2 separate regions of the Homo sapiens genome follow, and region 2 is linked to region 1. The links come from fine-mapping of genetic effects on gene expression. A gene starts in region 1. The other region holds a variant in brackets. All regions are shown on one strand. Distances are from middle to middle. Region 1 holds the start of ANXA13 (annexin A13). Region 2 has its middle 21 kb from the start of TYW2.

What was found.
Region 2: its variant is fine-mapped to the expression of ANXA13 in liver (GTEx, PIP above 0.99).

What each region holds. Positions count from the first base shown.
Region 1 is chr8:123,735,900-123,738,820 of GRCh38, forward strand. It overlaps ANXA13 (annexin A13), which reads right to left and starts at 1,494. Exons shown (of 11, transcript NM_004306.4): 1 at 1,421-1,494. The coding sequence starts at 1,435. The region is part of intron 1 of LOC105375739 (a long non-coding RNA gene); the gene reads left to right.
Region 2 is chr8:124,428,802-124,431,722 of GRCh38, forward strand. No RefSeq gene overlaps it. Among named protein-coding and RNA genes, the nearest start is that of TYW2, 21 kb to the right of the region's middle. RefSeq lists enhancers at 1-420, 2,419-2,921. The variant A/C (reference allele first, on the strand shown) is at 1,089.

The sequences.
Region 1 (2,921 bases):
TAAAAATGCTGGTCCACTCCTAAAGGCCAGCTGCTCCCTAGGTTGACTTTCAAAAGACAAAATTATCCTCCTAAGCTGTGAATGCAGGGTCCATTGATTATTCCTGGGGTCCTCTGCATCTATCAGAAATATTTGAAAAATAGGCTTCAGTTTCTCTGAAAGATACACTGAACGGATGGCTCATAATCTCTGCTGGTATGAAAATGCTATTTGTAGATGATTTGAAAAACAATGCCTTTCCTAAGAATATATTTGTAAGTTTGTAAACATCTGAGTGCAGCTTGAATATATAGCGAAGGAAAAACCTTATAGACAAAGTAACAGTTTACAGAAAGTTTTGGAGTTTTATTCTCTGCTCATAGTGTGCATGAAATATATCATTCTTGCTGTGGAAATTTACAGCAGGTACACAAAACCTTATTAAGATTTGTATTGGAATAGCTTTAGATATACTTCAATGTAAAAAATATTCAAGATTCAACTCTGATCTGTCCTGTGTGTAGTTGGTTCCAAAAGGTAGTGTTTTAGTCAGTTTTTAGTCATTAACTATTTATAGACACACTATTCAGGAGCCTAAACATTTCAAAAGAAATGTAAATTATTAAGTCCATTCCATGGATATTTGCAAATATGTGGATGTTTAGAAATAATAATGGAATATTTTCACCTTGCAATCCAAGTTGTGTGGACTTACATGAGTATTTACCTTGGTCTATTAATATTTGCAACATGAACCTATCTTTCCCACATAACTCTGAATGGGCTTAGTTTATGAAGTTTTATACAAATTTGCTACAAACTAACAGCTTTAGTTATACATTCTACAGATACATATTAACCATTTGCTCTCTGCAAGGCACTATTTACTGCCTTATTTTACATACTTCTTTCTCTTTAGCCCCTCTTAAGAGATTTTTGGCCAATAAGGGAATAATATATCCCCAGTGCTTTTTTTTTTTTTTTTTTGGGACGGAGTTTCACTCTTGTAGTCCAGGCTGGAGTGCAGTGGTGCAATCTCGGCTTATTGCAACCTCCGCCTCCCAGGTTCAAATGATTCTCCTGCCTCAGCCTCCTGAGTAGCTGGGACTACAGGCATGTTCCACCACACCTAGCTAACTTTTTTTTTTTTTTTAATTTTTTTAGTAGAGACAGTGTTTCACCATGTTGGCCAGGCTGACCTCAAACTCCTGACCTCAAGTAATCCGCCCACTCTGGCCTTGCAAAGTGCTGGGAGTACAGGTGTGAGCCACCGCACCCGGCCTCAATGCATTTTAAAAGCATGGTATGCTGTTGCTAAAACCAATATTAAAGGGTAACCATAGTGATAAAGTATACAAGTATCAGTCATGATTTTATAGTTTAAATTCTTCCACATGCTAACCAAAATTAAAACCAATTCCCAAAGGCAATGAGTACTTACATGACGATTGCCCATTTTCCTTTTTCTGAGATGGTTTTTCTGTATTTCATCAAGAGATCAGTCCTCCTACAGGCAAAGTTTACAACAGTTTTCCCCCCGGACATAATATCTCTTGTGTTTAATAAGTAACTTTTGGCACTGAATTTGAATACATTGTTGGGGATGGGTAGGGAGTGGCTCTAGCTACAGATAAACTTAGACTGCCCAGGTTTCCTTGGTACCCATGTTTTTAAAATAATATACTTCTTAATAAATAAAGTTTAGGCTTTTAAAGTTGAATAGCTTCTTCCCACCTAAAAGACTAAACCTGCCTCACTTCTGAATTGTTGAGTTATTCTTTCATATTCTGGTGTTCATTTAAAATATTATGCCTTTTAGTAATGAAAGCATTAACCAAATAGAAAAATATTACTATTTTTTACTAACATTGTTATTATTATTACAGAGAATTTTTCGAAGGCTACATTGCATTACACTAGATCATTTAAAAAATTTTACTGAGTTTTGAATTTAAAAAGTAATATGTGCAGATGGTAAATTTGTTTCTAATAATACATAAAGGTCCTGTGAAAAGTCGGCCTACTGACTTCCTTTTTCCTTCCCCCAGAGGTTTTCCGTGAGTCCTTCCTGAAGTGGTCCATGCATATTCAGCTATGTCCGTCGGTCTGCCTGTCTAGTTACCTACCTCTCTGTTTATCTTGATCCAACTTGTCTTTTCTTCCTCACCAAATGGGTTTGTACAATGTATTCTGTTCCATGCCTTGCATATTTCTTGTCTTTCCTTTTTTTTTCTGAGATTATTACAACATGTTTCTTTTTTTATTTGTACAAACTTATGTGGTACATAAGACATTTTGTTACATGCATATAATGAGTAGTGATCAAGTCAGGGTATTGAGAGTGTTTGCCTGAGTACAATAGATTTCTGTTGAGTACAGCCACCGTACTCTACTATCCAACACTGAATTTATTCCTTCCATCTTAGTGTGTGTTTGTACCCTTTAACCCACTTCTCCTCTTCCCCCGCAACTCACCCTTTCCAGTCTCTTTTCTCCATCTATCCACTCTCTACCTTCATGTGATCAATTTTTTAGCTCCCACATTTAAGGGAGAACATGTGATATTTGTTATAAGGGAGAACATGTGATATTTGTCTTTTTGTGCCTTGCTTATTTCACTTAATATAGTGTATATTTCATATACTAAAGAGATATTTGACACTGGCACATTTCTTTTTCAGTGGCCATGTAGTCAACTGTTATGGATATGAACCAAACCTTATTTCATCAGTCTACCGTTGAAGGTCATTTAGATTGTTTTTGATCTTTTGCATGAATATCTCATACACATCTTTGTTGTGCTTTCTTATCTGTAGAATAAAATCTTAGAATAGAGTTGCTGGCTAAAGACTATGTGCACTGAAAATTCTGATAGCTGTTGCCAAGTTGTCCTCCACACTGACATAAAATGCTGGACCACTCTTAAAGACCAGCTGATCCAT
Region 2 (2,921 bases), 690 kb after region 1:
CCGGCCTCCCAAAGTCCTGAAATTACAGGTGTGAGCCACCGCACCCGGCCAGTCACTTAGTCTCTTAAGTCACTTAGTCTGCCTTTAACATGAGAAGCAGAGACATAAAGGCTTTACATTAGAACTTCTGACTCACAGCCAGGCTCAGTAGTTACTGCCAGTAATTTGAGAACTTTGGGAGGCTGAAGCTAGAAGGTTCCTTGAGGCCAGGAGTTCAAGAGCAGCCTCGGCAACATAGCAAGATCTCATCTCTACAAAAACTTTTAAAAAGCAATCTTAGCTACTTGGGAGACAGAGGCAAGAGGATCACTTGAGGAAAGGAAAGAAAAACTTCTGAGTCAAGAAAGAGAGAGAGAAGAAAGAGAGAGAGAAAGAAAGAAAAGAAAAGAAGGAAGGAGGGAGGGAGGGAAGGAAGGAAGGAAAGAGAAAGAAAGAAAGAGAAGGAAGGAAAGAAAGAAAGAAAAAGAAAGAAGGAGGGAAGAAGGAGGAGGAGGAGAAGGAAGGAAGAGAAAGAAAGAAAAGAAAGAAAGAGAAAGAAAGAGAGAAAGAAAAAAAGAAGGAAGACTGACTTTTGAGTCACCGAATGCTAATAGAGTTCTTCTGTGGGCATCCATGCTGTCATATTCCACCTTGCCACCCTTTCCCCTATTTCCTCCAAGTGCAGCAGAAGATGCCGCAGCCTCTCAACCAACCAACCATGCTAGTGTGTGGTGGATTTATTTGTAGGGAGCTGATGGTTCTGGTCTTTTCTCTCAAGACTCATTTCCCTGAAATGGGCTATAGACTGGAACTGCTTTGCTGCCCCAGTGTTGCCAACGCCCCTTGTCTGGAATGTATTCCTCCGGTGTAGCCTCAAGGGCATTGTTAGGAAGTATGATAAGATAAATCTCTGTTGCTGTCAGGTTGTGTCCTTAGATGCATTCTGAATACCCTCTCTCATGGGCTGAGTCTCTCAACCCCACCATACACAAAATGGAGCAAAGATTTTTATCCAGGACTGGATCCAGGACAGTGGGAGATTAGCAGGACCAAACAACATTTATTTCATCATTCATTTCATTGTGTCTTCCTTTTTTCATGTATTCACT[A/C]GATCAGCAAGTATTTATTGAATGTTTGCTATGTACTGGTCACTGGGCTAAGCTCTGGAAGAGACAATGATGAATAAGGCTAAATAAGACAGTGATGAATAAGGCCATTCCATTTTCTTCCTTGACTTGCTGGAAGAAAATGGAAATATATAATATATAAGTAATGAGCAAATAAAGAAGAGAGCAGGTTATAAGAATGCACTAAGGAAATAAGGAGGATGCTGAGAAAAAGCAGCTTGGAAAAGGGCACTTTAGGTGGTCAGGTAAGGCTGCTCTGAAGGAGGAGGTGACATTTGACTGAGATTCATGAATTAAAAGGGATCCCTGTGAAGATCTGAAGGAGAGCATCCCCAAGAGCGGAAGCAGGGATAAATGCTGTCGGACAGCAGAGGACCTGGATCATGTTAAGAACAAACTGCAGACCAATGTGGCTACAGGAGAGTGAGCAAAGGTGAGATTGATGTGAGATGAGTTTATAAGGCTGGGCAGGGGCCAGATTGTGCTGGACTTAGGTGGGGGCATGTGGACAATGGCCTAAGTACAGTGGGAAGACAGTGGAGGGCTTTAAGTGTATGGAAAATGAATTCCAGGTACAAATGAGGATTGCAGTTTCTGGTTAGAGGGTTTTAAGTGCATGGAAAATGAATTCCGGATACAAATGAGGATTGCAGTTTCTGGTTAGAAATCTGGGCAGGAGATAATGGTGACTGTACTAGGATGAAGGAATAGGTGTGGAGAGTTGTGGACACATTCAAGATATGTTTTAGATTAGCGTTAACAGACCTTGTTGGCAGAATGGTTGTAGAGAATTAGGAAAGGAAAGATGCAAGGATGACTCTTACAACTTTTTGAGAAGCTGGACAACCAAGGGGTCAAAGAAGAAATAGAAGAGAAATTATAAAGTATTTTGAGACAAAAATGAAAACAGAACATACCAAAACTGACAGGATGCAGCAAAAGCACTACTAAAAGAGAAATTCAGAGTGATAAACACCTACATTAAGAAAGAAGAAAGATCTCAAATAAGCAACCTAACTTTACATTTCAAGGAACTAGAAAAAGAAAAACAAATCTAAGCCCAAAGTTAGGAGAAGGAAAGAAATAATAAAAATTAGAGCAGAAATAAACGGAATAGAAAATGAAAAGCAATAGAAAAAAATCAACAAAACTAAGAGTTGGTTTTTTGAAAAGATAAACAAAATCGACAAACCCTTACCAAGACTAACTAAAAAAGAGAACACTCAAATAAACAAAATCACAAATGAAAGTAGAAACTTTACAACTGGTCCTACAGAAATAAAAAGCATAATAAGAGACTACTACGAACAGTTGTGTGTCTATGAACCAGATAACCTGGAAGAAATGGGTAAGTTCCCAGAAACATACAACCAAGACTAAATCACAAAGAAATAAAAGATTTTTTTTTCTTTCTTTTTTTTTTAATTGATCATTCCTGGGTGTTTCTCGCAGAGGGGGATTTGGCAGGGTCATAGGACAATAGTGGAGGGAAGGTCAGCAGATAAACAAGTGAACAAAGGTCTCTGGTTTTCCTAGGCAGAGGACCCTGCGGCCTTCCGCAGTGTTTGTGGCCCTGGGTACTTGAGATTAGGGAGTGGTGATGACTCTTAACGACCATGCTGCCTTCAAGCATCTGTTTAACAAAGCACATCTTGCACCGCCCTTAATCCATTTAACCCTGAATGGACACAGCACATGTTTCAGAGAGCACAGGGTTGGGGGTAAGGTCACAGATCAACAGGATCCCAAGGCAGAAGAATTTTTCTTAGTACAGAACAAAATGAAAAGTCTCCCATGTCTACTTCTTTCTACACA